Linked DNA regions of Homo sapiens: region 1 is linked to region 2. The links come from fine-mapping of genetic effects on gene expression. A gene starts in region 2. The other region holds a variant in brackets. All regions are shown on one strand. Distances are between the middles of the regions.

What was found. PIP is the estimated chance that this variant, and not a neighbour inherited with it, causes the effect.
Region 1: its variant is the best candidate, but not a certain one, in a credible set for the expression of PRPS2 in whole blood (TOPMed, PIP 0.62).

Annotation. Positions count from the first base shown.
Region 1 is chrX:12,823,476-12,828,856 of GRCh38, reverse strand. PRPS2 (phosphoribosyl pyrophosphate synthetase 2) reads right to left here. Exons shown (of 7, transcript NM_002765.5): 7 at 4,635-5,381. It also overlaps the pseudogene PSMA6P2. Among named protein-coding and RNA genes, the nearest start is that of PRPS2, 35 kb to the right of the region's middle. The variant C/G (reference allele first, on the strand shown) is at 3,165.
Region 2 is chrX:12,788,238-12,793,618 of GRCh38, reverse strand. It overlaps PRPS2 (phosphoribosyl pyrophosphate synthetase 2), which reads right to left and starts at 2,207. Exons shown (of 7, transcript NM_002765.5): 1 at 2,000-2,207. The coding sequence starts at 2,121. RefSeq lists a silencer at 1,502-1,951.

The DNA of each region.
Region 1 (5,381 bases), 35 kb before region 2:
TGAGTTCAAGACCAGCCTGAGCAATATAGTGAGACCTTCTGTCTCAAAAAAAACAGGAAAGAGAGAGACAAAGAAAGAGAGAGAGAGAGGAAGGAAGGAAGGAAGGAAGGAAGGAAGGAAGGAAGGAAAGGAAGAAAAAGAAAAGAAATTTAGGGTCGCTCCTTGGTTCCTTGGGTGAGTAAATGTCAATGGCACATACTGAGCTTATCCTATGGTAAATGTACATCAAAATATGCCCAGAAATAATCATTAGGATGATTTTAAAGAGTGACGTGTTCAGTTTTAGTTCTTAAAATATGTCCATAATTCATGGTCAGTCTTAGCTTCCATGCAAGAAAATACTAGATTTAGCACTCCTTGTGTAGGGAAAATCAGAGCATCATACGTCCTCAGACACAGATGGCCATGCCCTCACAAATGTTAAGAATCTCTCAATGTGCGGAAGGACAACGTACATCAGGTAACCTTCAGAGCACTCTGCCTTCTGCCTGGACTGTTCCCTGGGGTCTCTGAAGACCACTTATGGTGTTAAAGGTAGCTGTGCCAAAGGACTGGCAATCAAGCCAGGCTTGAAGGTGTTTTCTAAAGGTGCCCCTGCTTTTTCTCTCTGATTTTGTGACTACAGCTCTTGAGCTTCTATAGTTAGTTGAACAGATTTTAAAAGACCTGTGATACCACAGGTGCCCTGCACATTGTTGGGCTCATCATATAGCCTGCTTGTTTTTGCAACCAGCACAAGATCAAAGCCATGCTCGTGGGATTCCTTACCAAGGTAGTGCCGGGGATGCAGAACTATCCACCTTAGAAGAGGGAACGGGAGACCAAACGTCCTGGTTTGCCCAGGACTGAGGGGTTTCCTAAGATATAGGTCTTTCAGGGCTAAATCGAGAAAAGTCCCACGCAAACCAAGACAAGTTGGTCACCCTATTGAGAGCAACCATCTGTGCCTTCAGTTAGAACTATTCCAACTACATCTAGCATAAATGGCATTGCCTATTAAAACTGCTGGGGACTTCTGCAATCATCTTTCCTCTAATTTTTGCAGAAAGATGCTCATACCCAGAGTGGTGTACACATTTTTCCCAAGGTCACCCAGCTTGCTAGCAGCATATCAGGAACCAGAATCTAGATCGCCACACTTCCAATTTAGGGCATTTTCCACTGCATTATGTTTTTCACTTTCCTATTCTCTTTTTTTATCACTCTCTTAAAATGTAAAATTCATTCAGCCAGGTTTTCTTTTGGCCACAGAACTCGGCTGTTAGGATAGTGAAGACTGTTCTTCCCATTTATATTGGGCACCACTTTTGGTTGTATTTATGATGGGATGGATGGTGAATGAGGGCTACAATGAAATCAGGTTGTTGTAAATGACCTCAATTGATTACCATCTCTATAATCACATGACATTCATTCCTACCTGTTGTTTCTACAGCCCACTGGAAGTATTGTTGTTGTTTTTAAGAGACGGGGTTTCTCTATGTTGCCCAGGCCAGTCTCAAATTCCTGGGCTCAAGCAATCCTACTGCCTCAGCCTTCTGTGTAGCTGGGATTACAAGAATGCACCACGGCACTCAGCTGAAAGTTGTTGCTGTTGTTGTTGTTTGAGACAGTCTTGCTCTGTTGCCCAGGCTGGAGTGCAGTGGTGTGATCATGGCTCACTGCAACCTCTGCCTCCCAGGTTCAAGTGATTCTCATGCCTCAGCCTCCAAGTGGCTGGGATTACAGGCATGCGCCACCATGCCTGACTAATTTTTGTATTTTTTAGTAGAGATGGGGTTTCACTATGTTGGCCAGGCTGGTCTCAAACTCCTGATCTCAGGTGATGCACCTGCCTTGGCCTCCTAAAATGCTGAGATACCAAAAGCATTGCTTTTATTTATAGAGTCCTAATCAATTCAGTAGTAGGAGGAGTGGGAGAGGCTCCTTTTTCAATCCAGGGACCTCCATAATGTTGTTTTTTTTGTTACCAAACACACAGGTAAGTGGCATCATGGATTTGGTAAACTAACAACAATGTGAGTGCATCAATCTCTGCTTCTGTAAGAATCCCGACTTTAGGATTTTCAACTGTCACTACTCCAACTTCTATTTCTGAAGGTTTGAAATCAATTGATAGAACAGTAGACAGGCATGTAATTGCAGTTTCCACTGTCTGTTCAAATGTCCAATCAAATTTCTTTTGCACTTTTTTTTTTTTTTTTTTTTCTGAGACGGAGTCTCGCTCTGTCGCCCAGGCTGGAGTGCAGTGGCGCGATCTCGGCTCACTGCAGGCTCCGCCCCCCGGGCTCACGCCATTCTCCTGCCTCAGCCTCCAGAGTAGTTGGGACTACAGGCGCCCGCCACCTCGCCCGGCTAATTTTTTGTACTTTTAGTAGAGACTGGGTTTCACCGTGTTAGCCAGGATGGTCTCGATCTCCTGACCTGGTGATCCACCCGCCTCGGCCTCCCAAAGTGCTGGGATTACAGGCGTGAGCCACCGCACCCGGCCCACTTTTTTTTTTCAAGGAAGCTGGTTAACTCAGTTTGTTTAACTCCTGCTGCAGTGGCTTTAAATCACAGCAGTAACCTGCAGGATCATACTTTCACACCTGAGGGCCTTGTTCTTCATCTATACCAATGAAAATCATACAACCAAGAGACCTCATTGTAGCATTCTGAGTAGTATCAGCAATTCCACACAGAATGTCCACAGGAATCTCATAGCCGTACTTGTATTTCCAGTTAGCTGCCCCATAGCGTGCCCTCTGTACCTCTGTCATTCCGGTCATCACAGTGACAGCCAATGTTTTCAGTTATTTTGAGTAAGTGAGTCACTGTGCTGGAATCCGATAATTTGTCAAGCATTTCTTCTGTATGATAATTACAGCAGTCTTTTCCTCTGACAAATACTGATGGAAGGCCACCCAGGTTAATAGCCTTAAAAGCATATGCATATTCTACTTGGTAGTGCTGGCCCTCGGGCGAAAAAAATGTTAATGTGGTGGGCAAAACCAGCGCTGGAACCACGGGACATGCTGGTAGAACCACTACTTTCAGCATAATCAAGTTTTTTTTTTTTTTTTTTTTTTAACATGCAACTATTTGTCACCTAAATGCTACCCTTCACTGAGGCAGTCACATGCCAAGACAATGTAGCCCTTCTAAAATGGCAGGAGGGCAGT[C/G]TGTTCCCCTCTAGGATGAACACCTAGAAAATGCATGAAAATCTTGCCTCTTCATACCTTACATTCTTTCTAGGGGAGTTTCAGGAGGCTCACTCTAAAAACTGAAGTTAATGTACAAACCAAGCAATTCTAAACACTTTACACATAACGTCTCATTTATTATCCCCATCTCACATGTAAGGAAACTGAGGCATAGGGGTTAAGCAACCAGCCCAAGGTCGTTGTTGCTGTTGGTTTTTAAACTCCGGTAAGTGGTGAAGTCTGTGTTCCTGGGCATTATGCTTTCAGAATAGGAAACAGAGCTCAAAGACTGCAATAAAGGAAACCACCCAGGATGTGATCTTGGAAAGCAGGGGCAGAAAAAAGGTGGAGGGATGTGTTCCTGGGGCACAGGGAGATAAATCAGGAAGATAAATATTGGTAATGAGAAGGAGGAGCCCTGTTGATTTCACGCAATTTAGATACAGGATAGCTGAGTATGTTTCAGCCCCTAACTCCCATCTTCCCTGGCACATCCTTGCTCAAACACATCATGTACCAAACGCCCTCTGCTGTCCTGCGTCAGTCCACACTGGAACACACCATAGGGTTCTGGAAAATTCCGACGTGAACCGTCTAATGGTGATCACCGAGCCCTTCCTGGTATCCCCAGCGTGATTCCAACCTCTGCACGCCTTAGTACTCCATCTTTCCCTTCACTACTTCCCTGTCCCCTGTAGTTCAGCTAGGGGATTAGATAGGACATGCCATAGGAAATGAAACGTCTCTGAAGAGGTGTGGCAGCATTATTAAGTGCAATTGTAAAGCTGATGAAGTGTCTTTGGCTTTCACTTCTCCTTCACTTCCCTCCTTTCTAGTACATTCTATCATGTTCTCTCACACTGTGATCACCTTTTTTCTCAGATGGACCTGGATGTAATTCTTCATATTTCACTGTGACTTCAAGACACCATGTTGCCATTCTTAGTGTTACACATACTTTACAGCTGAGCTTCACCAGGGGAACGTAATTATGACTTGACTTTGCGCTCACGAGAGTAGTTTGAAGTATCACTGAACAGGCTGTTCTATGGGGACAGGAATCCTCCTCGGTGCTTCTGAAATCAATGAATATGAACAAGTTTTATGCAGCCTACATTTAAGTTTGGTTTGCTCCAATAGATGGATATTGAACATCACTACTCTGATGCGTGAACACACTGTACCATCTTTAATTTTATAGGAAACATGTGGAATTAACAACGTGGACACCTTATGTGGCACAGCTGTTACGCTTTGAGGAAAGGCGATTGCTGGTAAGTTCTTCAGGAAGAAACACCTTCAAAATGGAAAACAGCTGACATCAATTAACTTCTGGCTTTTCTGTAATTTTGTATGCTGGCCTATAATCGTAAAGTAGCAAACATTTTCAGGTACTGCAACACATCACTCCGTCAAAACATATTACTCCACAATGATACATACAAACTATGAACGCAGTCAGAATGATTTTATTGAAATGTTTTAGTACAGTGTTAGAGGATCTTAAAATCTTACATTTTAAACCAATACAAGCACTGCAAATGATATACTCCTGAATCTAGTTGATGTAGTATCTAAAAAGAAAAGTGATCATATGAGTATCTATAAGTTGACTAATGTAATTTAAGTTGGAGGCTAAACAAACAACTTTGGTATATTCATATTTCTCTGGCTCCTGTTTTTGGCCAGATAAATGCCAGGTCCACCCCCATTCAGTAGAATTGGACAGGACCAATGTATTTGGTGGTCTCACTTAAGTTTCCACGCCAGGAGCAGCAAGAAATGTACAAATTTTGGGATTAAGCTGCTCCCAAGACAGTCTTCATCACCTTTGTGAACTGGAAACACCAAATAGTCAAGGTCTGAATTTCCATTGTGTGTGGCTAAGTCCAGTCGCATTGGTTCATAAATGTATTCTGAAGGATTTTAAAATACAAAGGTGGGGCTAAATAATGATAGAAACCATCAGTTCTTAATTCAGAGAATGACAATGCAGGTTCCTATATCCTTTTTAAAAATCTGAGATCATTATTTTAAAACTAGCTCTATACATTCTTAGGCTTTAAATTTAATCTTAGCTGAAATGATTACCTTTAAGTCAGTTGGCTTTAGGCCTTGGCGATTGCTCAATATAATTTTGGAATTTTAGGATGCAGCATTTCAGGTAAGTGACAGTTATGTTTTAGAAGAGGTCAT
Region 2 (5,381 bases):
TAAAAATTAAGCTCTGTACTTGTACAGTTCATGGAAAAGAGAAAAGTCAGGCAGTGAACCTTTTATACTCTATACATTAAAAACATAAAATGTAGCTATATAGGCAATTCCCAAACTTCATGCTGAGTGGTTTTTGAGGTCCCACGATTTCTAATTATCAAGTGATGGTTATAAAATGCCAAAAACAAAATAAAAGTGAGTCTGCTTTATATTTGAACCAAATGTATAAACAATCATACTTCAGTGTCTGAGTGAGTTTTGCCCAGTGGCACATGTGGTATTTTTAGGAGAAACTCAACACTGACTTAGCAGTGAACTGATCTAGATTAACCATGCTCCTTAGCAAAAGATCATGCTGCACTGAGTACCTGGAAGGGCAACATATTTGCTTTCAAAATTTACTTCATCAACAAATTTCTCCTTTACTTATATGACGACACCTTCTGAACAAAAACTATTCTTCTTCTCGTGTTCTTACAGCGACTGAAACTTGAACAAGACTGGCAAAATACTGCAACACTCAAACCTAGCTCTATCCTTCTCCAGAGCCCTAGACCATCCTCTCAGACTTCTGCATTAAACACTGCAGAGTGGAATTCTTTAGCCAAAGTCCACCTGCCACTCATTCACAATGTTTCTTCGCTTATATTATCATCGGAGCCATAACTGGAATTTGCCACCTGGAAGAAGTCACGTAAGATTCACATATCCTAAAAAGCTGACTTGCCAAAATATAGCATCTTCCCCATCAGTATTAACATAACTCCTCCTTAAGAAATTTTTGCCTAACCCCAAGTCAAGATTTTCTGCTAGAAATTTTATAGTTCTAGATTTTACAATTAGGTCTATGATCCACTTCAAAGTTAATTTTTACAAATGGTGAAAAGTATGGATGGAAGTTCATATTTTTTGGCATATGGGTGTCCAACTGTTCCAACACCATTTCTAGAAAATGTTGGTAAAATTGAACCTTTGCCAAAGATATAAAAATTATCAGTAACTGTGGACAGTTAACGGTACTAGACATTGGAGGAAGAAGGGGGAAAAATGAGACCAATTTGAAATGAGTCAAGGAGCTGTGTGGACTCAGGCAGATAGACAAAGGAGCCCCCCAGGTCAGCTTCCGAGGATGGCCACCACCTGAGGCTCTCCTGGACTTGAGAAATGGGTGAAAGTTACAGTCGAATCACGGCGTTGTTGCTGGACACAGCAGAGTCCTAGAACAAGAAGGAAGCTGAAAGTCCATCATCTTTAAAGCAGCAAGAGTAGTGGGAGCAGAGGGGAGCCCAGCACGTGCGTCCTGGGGTTCTCACAGTCTTTCAAACCTTGGCACAACTGCACCCTCTGGATAACGCAGTGGTCTGCGCCCTGGCTGCTCAGGAGAAGCCAGGGAAGCTTGTAAAATCGCTGATCCTCCGCCCGTTGGATCAAACCCTTGGGGGCAGGTCGGGGGAAGCAGCGTTCGGACCGTCCCCAGGTAAACCCAGCGTGCAACCAGAGTTGGGGACGGGGGGAAACCTTTAGTCGCACGCACTGGTCTGAGGTTCAGCTTTGTAGGGACGCGGAAACTGGGACCAGCCAACCCAGGACGTCTCTCCACCGCGCGCTGACCCGATGCGGTTCCCGCCCGCTGCGCCCACTCTCTCCCCGACGGTCTGTGACCGCCCAGACGTCTCCCTTCCGGGCTGGGGACGCCAGGCCGGGCGGCACCGCTGGGAGGCCGGGAGCGGCTCGGGACCGCCGGGTCGCCGCGGTCCCAGGACCGGAGGCCCTGCAACCGGGGGCACAGCCGAGGCGCGCATCGGGACGCGCGGCGCCCCGCCTCGGTTTCTTCGCAGGCGCGGGCGCGGGGGCGCGGAGGCCGCGTTGCCACCGTCCCGCCCCGGAAGGGGGAGCGCGGCGTCCGCGGAGGTGGCCCGGGCAGGCGCCGGCCCCCAACCCGGCCCCGCAGCCGCGTGCCCAGCGCTCTCCCTAGCCCGGCCGCCGGCGCGGCCCCCACCTGGTCTCCTGGTTGCTGAACTTCTTCGTGACCACCTTGCCCAGCTCCAGGCCCAGGCGGTCGGCCACGCGCTGGGACAGGTCCTGATGCGAGCTGCCGCTGAACAGCACGATGTTGGGCATGGTGGGGCGCGGAACTCCGAGGGGCGCGCGGCGGCGGAGGAGGTGGCGGAGGCAACAGCGACAGCGACGCGGGAGGCTGCTGCTGCGGGAGCGGGAAAGCGCGGCGGCTAGATGTAGGGAAGGGGAGGAGCGGAGGGGGAGGAGCCGGAGGAGGAGCTAGAGGGGGCAGAGAGGGAGGAAGAGCGGGCGTGGAGGGGGAGCTGGAAAGTGCCGGGGGGCGGGGGCACAGCCCTGGCAGCAGTTTTGGACGCCCTGGGTGGTCCTGAAGCCCGAAGGTGTCCTTGCTCCGCGAGAGAGCTCCGAGCTTCATTCTTGATCTTCCAGACCTGCCTCGCGGGGAGAGCCAATGAACCGCGGTTAGCTGGGCACAGAGGGAGAGTTCGGGCCGGGGGGATCCCTCGAGGTGCTTCGCAGCCCGGAGCGACTTCCCACCCCGGAACACCGCAAACCCAGTGTGGGCGACTGGTGTTCAGCTATAGCAAGGGTCTGCAAACTACAGCCTATGGGCCAGATCGCGAGAGCTCCCTGTGTTTGTACCAGAGAGCTAAGCATGGTTTTCATACATGAACATTTGCACTTTATGTGATGATAGCAGACACCGCCTTTGAACTCCAATTAAGAGAAATATCCCCCCCGCAAAAGAATTCCTTTTCTCTCATTAATAGATGTGAGTTGCAAATAATTGTACTCAAATATTACCGTATTTTGGATTATATCAATAAAAACATTGTGACAATTTTTTCTCTCTTGTTATGTAAGTTCCTACGTAATATCTTCCCTTTTCTTGCTTGGTCTGCAAAATGTAAATATTGGCCATGTGGTCCCTCATAGTTCAAACTTGATGACCCCTGAACTACAGAGTTGCCCCTGCACCATGTGTCCTTAAAAAATCCAACCACTATGTGAGTCCTCATCACAGGCTGAGGGGAAGTATTGCTCTTGGTGGCTCACTGGATCAAACCAAGTCCCCCAGATTCACCATTTTTCGGTAGATGTGATGGTCCTTGGGGCACTTCACAACCTTCTGCCTGTTGGGTGCTCAAGGGCCTGATCCCAGGAACACAGATCTCCCTAGACAATCCAGCTCAGTCCCTCCACATCCCTGGAGTCAGGGCCTCCTTCCTCTCTTTCCTGCTAGAAACCAGCAAAAAGGTTTTCTCAAGATGCCAATGCAGTACCAGAGCCAACTTCAGGGCACAAACCAAGTGTAGGAGAAAGGAAAGCAGTCCCTGTCTATAGAGGGCTGGTTGGTGATGCTGGTCACAGTTTCACACTCCTCAACAAAGGCTGATTCAACCGGGTAGATAAATGGCTTGGTTTTACTAATGTTTGCCACGAATTGGCTCTCCATCAACAGCAAAGCCCACTTGCAATTGGGTTGTAGCCTACTCTAATCAGACTTCATAATGGGATTTGGGAGATTACAGGGATGATTCGCATCATTGGGATTTTTCATCTGGGTCCTTGTACTTTGCAAGGAGATTACTTGGCACATCGAGTGTTTCTTGTAAACTTTTGTATCTGCCAGCCTATCAAAAAGTTATTCAAACTGACAATTTTAGCAGCATTTCTGGCCCTTTTTCATTCCGCCTAGAGATGCATATGTGCCCTATTATGTGAGAAAACAAACAAAAACCCCTATCTGCAATGGTTTATTATCTATGTATTTCACAGCTAATTACCATAGCAATGAGATTTATACTTGACCCACTATGTTTAAAATTTTTATTGAGTCTGCTAATGTAGTTATATTTAAACTCTTCTAATAAAATTTACTATCAGCAAATTACTATAATTTTTATATTCTTAATATTTCTCTCATAGATAAAATTGACTAATAATGGTTTCTTCTAAATATATAGATGCTCTTCTCAAAGGGAAAGTGGCATCCTCTTAGCATGATGGGGCTGTGGTTCTTTGGTAACACAGAACCAAAGCTGATGGACTATAAAACAGTAAAAGTTAAAGCCCCTGGTCTTTGGGTGGGTAAATGGCTGCAGATTTGGAAGCTCGGATTGAATTGTGACAAACCATGGACTTGATAGCACCAAGGAGAAACAATATCTCAGTTGGGGCAACTAATACAATGATTGTTGGTTCAATAGTTTGATGAGTTACTCTGCTTAAATGCTAAATGTAAACAAGGTGAAATGTGCCATTGGGGTTGATGAGAATACTAATGGGAATCATTGAAAAATCATCATGAGTCACAGACTGTTCAGAAAGCTGTCACTTGTAAATGAGCAGCTACAGATAATTTTATTTAAGTGTGAAAACTTTCTCTCCCAAATGCCTTTATCCTTGATCCATAGGAGCCAGGTTGTGGGAAACATTGGTCTAGAGCAGGTTTCTGAACCTCAGCACAGCTGATATTTAGGCTGGGTAATTCTTTGTTGTGGGACTGTCCTGTGCATTGCAGATTGTTTAGCAGCCTCCCTTGCCTCTACCCACTAGATGCCAGTAGCACCTATCCACCACTGTGACAACCAAAAGTGTCCCCAGACATTGCCAAATGTCCTACAAGGAGCAAAATCACCACAGGTTGAGAATCACTAGTTTGAAAGAACCCCTGGCCCTTCTCTCCTCCATGTGGGCCTTTCTTCATGGTTGTTTGGGCTTCCTTACGGCATGGCTGCAAGGTTCCAAGGAGTGTTCCAAGAAGATAAGTCTCAATGAGCAAGTGCTTATCAAACCTCTGTTTTTAACTTGCTTGCTAATGTCTCATTGACCAAAGCAAGTTACATGGCCAAGACCAGCTGTCAACATGGTATGGGACAACTGGAGGGCATGAGTACTGTCCACCAACTGTCTACCACAGTGCACTTCTTGAACAACATTTGAAGTTGGGGAGCCTCTGGAAAAATGGAACACTTGTTCAAAGACCCAAGACTTAGAAGAGAAAAAGAACATATACTCTGTGCATATGTGATCTGGGTCTCAGACCGTTTATAAAATATACATTATCTTAAGATAAAATGTTAGTGGAAAAAATTAAAATGATGAGATATTTTCTATTGTTGATTTCTATCTTCATTGACTCATGGATAGAGATTAACGGTAAAACAATGATTTGAATTTATGAACAGTTTCACGTCTTCTATTTCCCACATCATCTAGCCAAGTTCTTTGTATATAGTAAGAAGTCTAAGTATTTGCTGAGTGAATTTATCCCTGACTATTTTAGGGCTGAGAAACGGAAGAAATTTCCCCAAGTCACATGGCTAGTTGAAAGCAGCAAAGGAATTAGAATGTGGATCTTC